3 linked regions of the Homo sapiens genome follow. The protein of the gene in region 2 interacts with the protein of the main gene of each other region in a pairwise test. Each region holds a gene or a part of one and is shown on either strand. Other genes may lie near its edges.

Evidence for each region.
Region 1: the proteins of KLK9 (region 2) and PTPRJ interact in a two-hybrid assay, tested with the Homo sapiens proteins (one large-scale study listed by BioGRID and IntAct).
Region 3: the proteins of KLK9 (region 2) and CHEK2 interact in a two-hybrid assay, tested with the Homo sapiens proteins (one large-scale study listed by BioGRID and IntAct).

The regions. Positions count from the first base shown.
Region 1 is NC_000011.10:48,127,006-48,130,727, reverse strand, and holds part of PTPRJ (receptor-type tyrosine-protein phosphatase eta isoform 1 precursor), read right to left. Parts: intron 2,949-3,722; coding exon 2,685-2,948; intron 270-2,684; coding exon 12-269; intron 1-11. UniProt on the Homo sapiens protein: Tyrosine phosphatase which dephosphorylates or contributes to the dephosphorylation of CTNND1, FLT3, PDGFRB, MET, KDR, LYN, SRC, MAPK1, MAPK3, EGFR, TJP1, OCLN, PIK3R1 and PIK3R2. Plays a role in cell adhesion, migration, proliferation and differentiation.
Region 2 is NC_000019.10:51,006,694-51,011,110, forward strand, and holds the start of KLK9 (kallikrein-9 precursor), read right to left. Parts: upstream 2,900-4,417; 5' UTR 2,855-2,899; coding exon 2,812-2,854; intron 2,647-2,811; coding exon 2,490-2,646; intron 31-2,489; coding exon 1-30.
Region 3 is NC_000022.11:28,693,321-28,696,820, forward strand, and holds part of CHEK2 (serine/threonine-protein kinase Chk2), read right to left. Parts: intron 2,554-3,500; coding exon 2,390-2,553; intron 1,923-2,389; coding exon 1,807-1,922; intron 798-1,806; coding exon 712-797; intron 1-711. UniProt on the Homo sapiens protein: Serine/threonine-protein kinase which is required for checkpoint-mediated cell cycle arrest, activation of DNA repair and apoptosis in response to the presence of DNA double-strand breaks.

The sequences.
Region 1 (3,722 bases), on a different chromosome or scaffold from region 2:
TATTTGCTTACCAGTTCTATTGCAAACTGTCCGAGATGCCCCTTCAGTCCCATTTGGTCCTTTTGGAACTATTTCAAAGCAATACTTGGTTCCAGGGAACAAGCCACCAATGATAATACTTTGGTTGGTGGTTATTTCTACCCGAGAATTGCCAGCTCCCTCCTGTGTGATATGCATCTGAAATGATTCTGCATCATGGCTGCTCCATGCTAAGCCGATCTCCGTCGTGCTGACCACTGTCACTCGGAAGTCAGAAACTGGAACAGGGGCTATGCAAAGAAAGTAAACAACTAGATTAAAAATATACTTCTCCAGGAGACAGGGATGCCCCACCTCAGAAAATACTGAGATGAAATGTACACTTAGGACACCTGATCCCTCTCTCTGTCTTCTTTGTATCATCACCTACAACATGAGCCCCTCAGAAACTGCTGTTTCTGGCCATGGAGAGAGCACTTGATCATGAGAGTGCAGAAGCTCTGTGCTTACATTGCACACAATCATTCACAGGAAATGAGAGGAGGCGTGAGCTCCTGTGGTCAAGGGCTCAGGCTCTGGAGGAGAACCTTGGCCACACTGGCTGCTTTATCTCGAATGCATTACTAGCCTCCCAGAGCCTCTGTTCAGGGAGGGACAGCAGAGAGAGACCAGTCTTGACCCCCAAAATCCATTCCCCCATTTTCCCTTCATCATACCCACCCAGATTTTTAGCCCTGTGTGTGCATACCTGTTGGAAACAAAGACCACATTTCCCAGCTCCCATGGAGCTAGATGTTGCAATGTGACTAAGTTTTGCTCAACGAAGCATGAGCAGAGGTACTGGGTGACTTCTAGGAAGTGTCCTTTAAGGGTGGGGCACAACCTTCTGCCCTTCCTCCTTCTTATACCTGTAGTGTGGATGCAATGACTGGAGCTCACGCTGCCTGGCTCTAGAACCAAAACCTCAGCGGTGGCTGCAGCTTCCTGATCCCAGGATCACAGCTCAGAACATAGACCCCTGGATCCCGCAACTACAGCAGAGACTTCCTGATTCCTCCCTCTGCTGTCTGTGACCAAGGTGGTGACTCTCCAGGGGGTCAGTTCTGCAGACTTAGTCCAGGAGTCATTTCTTGGGGCGAGGCCTAAAGCCTGCTCCTCAACTGTTATGAGCTGACTTGTGCTCCCTCACCCCCAAATGTGTATGTTTATGTCCTAACCCCCAAGACCTCAGAATGTGGCTGTCTTTGGAGACAGGGTCTTCAAAGAGGTAATTAAGTTAATGTGAGGTCATGAAGGTAGGCCCTAATCCAGCAAGACTGGTGTCCTTATAAAGGGAGATGAGGGCATAGGCACACGCAGACTAAGGACAACCATGTGAGGGAGAAGACAGTCATCTATAAGCCAAGAGGGAGGCCTCAGAAGAAACCACACCTGCCGTTGCCTTAATCTTTGACCTTCAGCCTCCAGAACTATGAGAAAGTCTATTTCTGTTCAAGCCACACAGCCTTTGGTACTTGTTCTGGTAGCCCTAGCAAACTAATACACCAGCTCTTCCAATGATTCTGCAAAACCTCAATTCCCAGGATAAATCCCTTTTGGTTAAAATAGCTCACAGTTTCTGTTTCATACAACTGAGCCTTGGATAACCTCTATCATCCCCATCCTGCCTAGCACTGGGCTTCTGTTACAGGAGAGAGAAATAAACCCCTGTCTTGTTTAAGCCACGGATACTTGGGTTTTGTTGTTGTTGTTTTTGGTGGTGTTATTCGTGGCTGAACCTAATCCTAACTAATAAATAGTAAAAGAGTAAAAGGTAAAGAAATGCAAGCATATTTCATTTTCCCAAAGATCCAGTCCAAAATACATCTATAAGAATGCTAAGGTGTGCTTCCTGCGAAGGAATGGACATTCTTGTGGGATAAGCCTGGGTCCAGAGCCACACACCCCTGAGTTCAAGTCCTGCTCTGCTACTCACTAGCTCTGTGGCTTTGGGCAAACTGTTCAGCCATCAGGGTGTCATTTCCTCATCTGTAAAAGGGGACCCCAATACCTACCTCGGAGGCCACTACAGTGTCTATAAATCTCATGGCACAGTGCAAAATGCAGTGCTGGTGTCACTACTATTGTTTAATAGTATATAATCAATATTATACCACTGTACTACTAGTGCACCATTACTGTTTTATTTTACATTATCGGACCTTCTTTGAAACCTAAAGCTTTTTATTTGCTGCATAAAATCTTATTTTTAAGGGACATTTAAACAAACAAAGATGAGATACAGCTGTGCCAGTGATTCGTTATAATGTCAGCACCCAAGACACAAGGGGATATGAATACCAGGTCATTTTTGTCTCCCTGTATCAATTCACTCTAGGTCTCCTCCACACTGGAAAGAGAGTTACAAGCGCAGGCTCCAGGTGAGAAATACCAGAGGCTTAATCTCACCTCTGCCACTTTCCAGCTGTGATACCTGTCTAGCACCTCTCTCAGCCTTGGCTTCCTATCTATAAAATAAGGCTACTTCCAACCACATCACAGGGCTGTTGTGAGCATACAATGTGCCAGTGCAAGGAAAGCATGTCACACGAAGCTTGGCGTGTGGTCAGCCAACAGTCACCATTACTACATCATGCATCCTGTGTCTGGGCCTGGCACGGAGCAGGACAGCAGGAAAGGGTGGTGAGAGCCAGGCATGAACTCACGGGTGTGCACTTGGAGGAAGCCCGGCGTGCCCTCGATGTCACCTAGGACAGGACACACTGTGATGTTGTAGAAGGTGCTGGAGCGGAGTCCGGGGATGACAGCGCGAGGCTCACTGACGTTGAGATTGGAAGAATCTGTCTCCCCCGCCACATGTATCTTGTAGGTATAGTTAGATGACGACTCGTTATCGCTGACTTTCCAGATCAGGGTCAGGCTTGTGGCACTGATGTTCACAGCGGTGACGTCAAAAACCTGAATAGCATCTGTGAGAACACAAGAGGAGTTCAAAATAACCAGAACGGCCAAGGCAGAGGGAGGGAGAGGTCATCAGGGCATGCTGTCAAGCCCAGCAAACTCTCCTGGGGGAGTGTTCCTTCCTCCTCTGCACCATCAACCGTGGCTAGGAAAGCATGACGGTCCCAGCCAAAGTCAGGCATCATTGGGCGGTGAAGAAACAACCTGGCCAATGGCACCTGCAGGGTTATTCTTTGTTCCTTTTTGTAAGTTGACTTTAGAGATTTGACCTAAATGATGACTTGGACTCTATGCATGTCTTACCCTAGGGCCAGGGGCACCCAGAAAAGTTGTCAAACACACATGATGCAAGAGCGAACACTGCGATCTATGTGATCGCCCGAGATCACAGAAGTCAGGACGAGGCAGGCCTGGGTTCCAGGGCTCACTCTGCTATGACACCCAGGTGGGCCACAGGAAAACCACTTGAGCTCAGCTTCCTCACCTATAAAACTGGAGAGCAATCCTAACCTCAAGAAAAGATAACCCGAGTGCCAGTTATTCACCACCTGCCCACTCCACCCTCCCGACATATCCACTGCCCTTCCCTCACCTGCTCTGGGCCCAGGAGGCTGACCTTGTGCAAGGCATCATGGGGGGTCTTGCCACATGGGCTGTGACCGGGTTCCACTATGAGCCAATGGGCAGGCCCCTGAAGGGCCACAGGAGAAAGGAGTCAGTGCCTTCCTCCATCACCTCCTGCTCTGGGCCTCCTGTCCTGACACAGCTGTGTCCACCACTGC
Region 2 (4,417 bases):
TGGTGCTCTCCAAGGCGGACCCACAGATACCTGCTGGGACAGGCCTCAGAGGTCAAGCTGGGGGAAAGGTAAAAGTCCTTTCAGCCCCAGCCCTCTTTTCCTGTCCATCAGGGTGCTGTGTGACCCTCTGCAAGCCACACACCCTCTCTGCACCCTCATCATCTATGTCTGGCCCAGGGTACTGTGATTTTAAGCGAGGCACACACCTCCTCTGGGTCCCTGGTCCCCACTCTGATGTTTTGTGTGTCTCCATCTTTGTAGCTCTCCCCACAAAGCCCCCGCTCCTAGTCCCAGGCTGAGTGAGCCACCTTCCTCCCTACTCACCTGGAGCCTTGGTGGTGACTTGGGTCCCTAGGAACGGTGTGGGCACGGGGGACCCCACCTACCACATAACAACCGCCCCACCCCTGCCCCCACAGGTCTGGTGGCTTCTGTGGGAGCGGCTCTGTATGTCTAAGTGGTGTGTGTGTATACGTGTGCGTGTGTATGAAAGGGGATGGGATATGGAAAATCCCCAAATTGGGGGTCATCTCTGGCCTCAGCTTTTCCTGTCTATCATATCCTTCACCCTTCAATGCATGTCTTCCTGGTGTCTAACCTTAAGCCCTCACCACAGTCTCAGCGCACTTGTTTCATTTCTGGTCCATGCCCTAGACAGCTGGGATCCTTTCGGGGATGACAAGTCCATTCCCCAGCCTCTGACCTCTGACATTAGGCAGCAGGCTAATGACTGCGAATTCAGGGTTGGGGAACCAGAAACATCTGTGTCTGTCTCTCTCTGTCATTCTTGCTGTCTTGGCTCTGGATCTGGAAAAGTAGTCCTCACCCCTACATCCCTTCATCCCCCTACCCTTCCCCTGCCTCTCACTCTCTTCCACCTTCATATCTCTGCATTTCTCCTGCTTCACTTTCGGCTGAAATCTGAACATCGTTCTCCCAGTCTGATGTATAGGCTTAAGTTAAAGGAGGTTCCATCATGGAGCAATGCATGATGGGAAATTCCCACACAGCATCTCTTACCACAATCAGTGCTTTACTCATGGAGGGAAGAAAATTGGAACAGTATGGATGGTCACTTTTCAGAGGCAATGGAGAGAGGATTCCTGCATCAGGTGGATTCCAGGATACTATTAGAATGCCCAGAACCTAAGATTCTAGAATTCTCAGATTCCGACACACTATTATCCATGATTCTAGAATCTAGAGGCTCAAGGTTTAGAGTTTTATGAATCCAAGATTCTAACATTCCAGATTCCCCTGGATCAAAAAAACTCCAGGATTCTAACATTATCTGAATTAAATCTAAGATTTGAACATAGAATTTTAATGTTCTAGGACAAAAAGACTAGAATTTTGGCTGGGCGCGGTGGCTCACGCCTGTAATCCCAGCACTTTGGGAGGCCGAGGCGGGCAGATCACAAGGTCAGGAGTTCAAGACCAGCCTGGCCAATATGGTGAAACCCCCGTCTCTACTAAAAAAAAAAAAAAAAAAAAAATAGCCTGGCATGGTGGTGCATACCTGTAATCCCAGCTACTCAGGAGGCTGAGGCAGGAGAATTGCTTGAACCCGAGAGGCAGAGGTTGCAGTGAGCTGAGATTGTGCCACTGCACTCCAGCCTGGGAGATAGAGGGAGACTCTGTCTCAAAAAAAAAAAAAAAAAAAAAAAAGAAAGACTAGAATGTCATCATTCTATAAATCTATAACCTTAGAAATTTAAGAGTCTGGGATTCAAATAGTTTAAGACTACAGAATTATCTGAATCTCAATATTCTAGGATACTGTGAATCAAAGATTCTAGTACTGTGAGTTTCAATATTCAATGAATCTAGAAAGCTCTGAATTTAAGATTCTAGGATCACACTAGCCATTATGGCTATTGAACACTTGAAATGTGGCTAGTCCATTTTGTAACAGGCTATGTGTGTAAAATACAGAACAGATTTCAAAGGCTTAGTACCAAAACAAAAGTAAACTGTATCGTTCATACGTATTTAAAAATTGATTACATGTCAAAATAAGTTTTTGGGTATGTCAAGTTAAATCTATTAGAATTAATTTTACTCATTCCTTATTTTTTAAATGTGTCCACCAGAAATTTAAACTTACACATGTGGCTGGCATCATAATTCCTCTGGGCAGTGCTGACCCAGACTGCTAAGATTCTAATAGTCTGCGAATCTATGATTCTAAAATTTGCTGAGGCTATTGCAGAATTTCATAAATTCAAGATTTTAGGATTCTACGATTCTGGATTTCTCTGGGTCAGTCTCGGATTCGAAGAGCCTAAGTTTCGAATCTTAGACTTCTCAAATGAGATATTGCTGGTCTCTAGAATTTTAGGATTTGGGAGGCTACCCTTCCTACTTCTAAGAGTTGAACTTGTGGTATCAGAAGTGGAGGCTCCGCACTTCTGGCCTAAAGCACCCCTCACCCTCTCCTGACCCCCAGCCTCTGTCCCTCCCCAGCATGGCCAGCCTGGGTCACTCACGGCTTGCGGCAGTGGGCAGCTGTGAGCAGCCAGCGGTCACTGATGAGGGTCGCCCCACAGAAGAGCCGAGTAAGGTGGAAGAGGCCGGCCTGCCAAGGCTGGGAGTTGGGGCGACATTCCTCGGCCCCGATGGCACGGGTGTCTGCCCAGCCATGCCCTGGGGTGGGGATGAGGGACAAAGGGGTCAGCGAAGAGCAGGCTGGGAGGGCAGGGAGAGGATGCTGAGAAGCCTAGAGGGCAGGAGGCAGAAGCCTGGGATGGGAGGGAAGAGCAAGGTGACCTTAGTACAGCCGTGAAGGGGCAGCCAGCCTGGGAGCCTCACCTGCCAGCAGAGAGAGCAGAGCACAGAGGAGTCCCAGCTTCATGACCCCTGGGCACCTGGATCCTGGAACGTGCACCCGGCGTCCAGTGCTTCTTTATGGTAAGCCATGCCATCTCCTTCCTCCTCCATGGGGCCGCCCCTGTGATTAATCGGGGTTGGGAAATGTACCTGGGGGAGGGGGAAGCCCTGGGGCTGTGACAGGGGCCTTGGGAGAGGAGGTAAGTGCAGGGGGACCCCCCTTTTGGGATGAACTGGCGGCTTGCTGGGCCAGAGCTTGACTGAATGGAGGAGGAGTGCTGGGGGTGTGGAGAGGTTGTGGGCACCTCCTCTGGGGTCTTCAGAGTGGGAGACCTCATTCCTCATCACCTTAGGCTACAAGATACAGAATCTTTTGTGTCCTGGAAAAGGAGGGAGATCCTTGAAGCCTAAGGTCCTGGGGTGCAGCAGGTTTATTTTGGATAAAGCAGTGGTGTGCAGAGACCAACCTCCCACGGCAGGCTGGAGGGATGTGCAGGGGGACCACCCAGAAAGGAGGCGAGGGGTGGAAGACAGAGTCAGGACTCAGACACAAGAGCAAAAGATACAAAGAGAGGGAGGTACAGGCACAGAAGGACCCAAGATGAGAGGAGGAGTGGGAGGAGGAGACAGAACACGGGAAAGATTGAGGGAAATCCAGGTGGAGTGAGGCAGAGACCACAGGCAGCTGCACAGGTTTACACACCTTGCAGAACCTTCCCTGCCCTGGGGATTTGGGCCTCTTCCCACAAGGACAAGGCCCTCTCCTAGAATGTTGAGAAATCTGGTTCCATCTGGATTAACCCACTCTTGTCATAACCTGCCCCCTTCCCCACGGCTCCACCACCCAAGGACCCAGGTGCCCAACCTTCCAGGTAGCAAGTGCCCTGTGCTCTCTCTTAATACATCCTGATCTTTGCCAAATCCTGAGAACATTTGCTATATATTTTTTTCATCCATCTCCCTGCCCCCCACCCCATTGTCCCTTCCATCACCCCATCCTCCCTGCCTCTCTCCTCATCATTCCTTCTCACCAGGTGGACAGCTTCTGGAGGGCTGGGCCCAGGTCTGACTCATCTCTGTGTCCCAGCATCACCCCGTTCCAGGCGGAACAGGGCTTGCAGAAGTCCTCAGGAGATGTTCATTGAATGAGTGAATGTCTTTCTCCATATCCTTCTTTTCCTGGTGAACTCCCACTCATCCTTCAACACCCAACCTCAATTCTCCCTCCTCCAGGAAATCTCTGAGATCCTCAGGCAGAGTCCATCTTTGCCTCCCCTGGGCACTTACGATCCCTTCCACTTTCTCCTGCTCACAGGCCTGGTTATGAAGCTGGGTCTGGGCTCCCCTTGAATGTTCTCTCACTGTGTCGTCATGGTTTGGAGCATGGACTCTGGAACTGAACCATGTGTGTCCAAATCTCAATGATTAGGTGTGATTAGTGATGAGGTGTGTGACTTTGGGCAAGTCACAAGACCTCTCTCAGTTGCTCCATCTGTTTTTTGTTTGTTTGTTTGTTTGTTTGTTTTCCAAAACGGAGTATTGCTCTGACACCCAGGCTGAAGTACAGTGGCGCGATCTCAGCTCACTG
Region 3 (3,500 bases), on a different chromosome or scaffold from region 2:
TGAAAAGTGCAGGTGACAGCCTTCATTAAGGACACATTTACTCACCTGAATGAACAAGCAGTGGGACCCTTTATACCCAGTCACTTGGGCTTGAGAAATAGCTGGATTCTCCCCAGGGAGGCTGTCCTCCTCCCCCTCCCCCACTTCCCTGATTTAAGGTTGAAGATGGCTGGAATGCACCCCACCTATGAAGAGCAGTGGACATGGCTGGGGGTAGAGCCAGAACAAGCACTCAAAAGAACACAGGCCAAACAGGAGACTCGGGGCAGCCAAGTGGAACCAGAACAGGACATAAAGTGAGCGTGTACATCCAACAGCCATGAGTAATATCAAAAAGGTTGTAGCCTGGCCAGCACGGCGAAACCCCATCTCTACAAAAAATACAAAAAGTAGCTGGGCATGGCAGCATGCACCTGTAATCCCAGCTACTTGGGAGGCTGAGGCAGGAGAATCACTTGAACCCGGGGGCCAGAGGTTGCAGTGAGCTGAGATCGTGCCACTGCACTCCAGCCAGGGTGACAGAACAAGAACCTGTCTCAAAAAAAAAAATAAAACAGGTTGTAACCCATCCTCCAAGATACCCCCCATACATCTAAAACAATTAGATTAAACACTCAACAAAGTAAACATGTTTCTGTCCTCTGTCTCATGTCTCTCAGGCAGCAGGGCTTCCCATGTATTTTATGCTAGCAGGCACTGTCCCACACCCACCTGAAGCCACGGGTGTCTTAAGGCTTCTTCTGTCGTAAAACGTGCCTTTGGATCCACTACCAACAACTTCTTGACAAGGTCCAGAGCTAAAGCAACAATTGGGCAAATCACAGTGAAAAGGATAAATATATTATCAGTAAGAGTATGCCAGAATTAACAGGCCACCATTCAGAAAGAGCAGAGAGGGTCTGAGATCATCACGGAGTCAGCAGACAGGGCCCCCTAATCTTCCTCACTCTCTGTATTCAGAGTACTGTGAGAAGACCAGGAATGATAATGACACTCCCTGTCTCCTGCTGCTGGGACGTCAGTCACGACCTCTTCACTGCCTGTTCCCTCTCTTGTTGCTAGACTCAAGGTCGGACTAATTAAAGCTAAACTTCTACCCAATTCTAAGATACTTGGGATGCACAGCAAACTCTCTCTGACATCTACAGATGGATAGGTGACAGTTACTCAGCGAGGGAGAGGCTCCCTGGAACTGCAGACTTGTCAGAAATAAAACTTGGCTACTCCAGCAAGCAACAAATGCACGCTGGCCTGTATATTACAACATTATTATTCCTTAAATATTCTGACATTTAACACAATCACCTATGTTATGTTATTTGACATTTAATTTTCTACTTTCTCTTCAGGGAACTAAAGTTGCCAGGATAAATTATAAAATACAAGGTAACTAATGACATCTAGTTTTTACATGCTTGCTTACTCAAAGGAAACCTTGTAACTAAAAAGTTACAAGTGCATTTATTTTGCTCACTAAAATAGGTACCAGGCACTTGTGTACATGATACTTAACCCTCACAAAAACCTTTTAAGGTAGGGTTTATTGAGGGTCCCTTTACACAGAAAGAAATTGGAGATGGAGGTTAAATAACTTGCCTAAGGCCACACAGCTAAGTAGTAGCAGACCCAGGACCTGAGTGCATGCTCTTAATAATTTCCAGTGCCTCTCAAATGGTGTGAAACTAACAATAGAAAATAAGAACAGAATTGACAGGAGAAAACACCATGGAATTTGGGAAGAAACTCCCACCACAGCACATACACATTTTAGCATACCACAAATTCTTAACCCTTTCATATTCATACCTTTCTCTGAGACTTCTGCCCAGACTTCAGGAATGAAGTTGTATTTTCCACTGGTGATCTGATCCTTCAGTGACACTTGAGTCCTATGCTCAGAGAAAGGTGGATACCCACTAAGGCTTAATATTGGTAGAGAGAGAAAGGAAAAGAAATCAAGTGGCATTCTCAGTGGCATTCAGATATAAAGATTTCTTTTTCAGCATAATGAAAAGTCAGATTTTTCTTTAAATCAATGGTCAAAAAGTGAGCTAGGCTGGGCACAATGCCTTAGGCTTGTAATCCCAGCACTTTGGGAGGCCGAGGCAGGAGGATCACTTGAGCCCAGGAGTTCGAGACCAGCCTGGGCAACATGGCAAAACCCCATCACTACAAAAAATAGAAAAATTAGCTGGGCATGGTGGTGTGCATCTGTAGTCCCAGCTACTCGGGAGGCTGAGGTGGGAGGATCACTTGACCCAGGAGGCAGAGGCTACAGTTAGCCAAGATCAAGCCACTGCATGCCAGCCTGGACAACAGAGCAAGACACATTTGTGACTTCATCTAATCACCTCCTACCAGTCTGTGCAGCAATGAAAATATTTCTTACCAGATAAAAAGAATAACTCCTAAACTCCAGCAGTCCACAGCACGGTTATACCCAGCAGTCCCAACAGAAACAAGAACTTCAGGCGCCAAGTAGGTGGGGGTTCCACATAAGGTTCTCATGAGAGAGGTCTCTCCCAAAATCTTGGAGTGCCCAAAATCAGTAATCTAAAATTCAGTACAAAAGGGAATAATGTTGAACTTGCCATAAAATAAAAAGATTAACATAGTCTGCCAGTCCAAGAAGACACGTAGGCTAGATCAGTTTCTATTGTACAATTCACACCTGCCATTAATCTGGAATTTACAGATTCATGTCTTTGCAAGTTAGGACATTTAATTTTGCTTAAATTAAAATTCCTGAGCCTAGGAATCTCAACACTCAGGCTTTCCAACTTAACCTATGTCCTCTGTAATCTTACAAAAAGCTTATTATCTTTATCACAGACACTTCAGGATTCTAATTAGTTCTACATGGTTCTTAGACCCCAGTGTCTCAAACTTGGCTGCGCTATGGAATACCTGGGGAGCTTGGAAACACATGCTTATACCTGAGTGCCACTCTCAGCTTCTGAGGTAAAGCCTGGGTGTCATAAATCCTAACAAGAGATTCTAAAGTGATGCCAGACTTGAGAAACAGGGAAAGGCAGCGCATGTGATTACTCATTCATTCATTCACCTATTCTGAGATGATGTCTGGCCCTTTTGCACAGGCTGGAGTGCAGTGGTGCGATCTCAGCTCACTGCAACTTCTGCCTCCCAGGTTCAAGTGATTCTCGTGTCTCAGCCTCCCAAGTAGCTGGGATTACAGACACCCACCACCATGCCCAGCTAAATTTTTGTATTTTTTGCCATGTTGGCCAGGTTGGTCTCAAACTCCTGACCTCAGGTGATCTGCCCACCTCGGCCTCCCAAAGTGCTGGGATTACAGGTGTGAGCCACCATACCCAGCCCACTCGTCCATTTAGACCCCTCCTCTCTCTCTAAGCACAAAGGTCACTTGTACACAACAGAGCTCAATAAATGCTCATTCGAATCTGGATAAGAGCAGTATCACCTGATCTCTAAAATAATTGGTAACAGTGAAAGGGTCAGATTCTCATCCTTTTTACGCT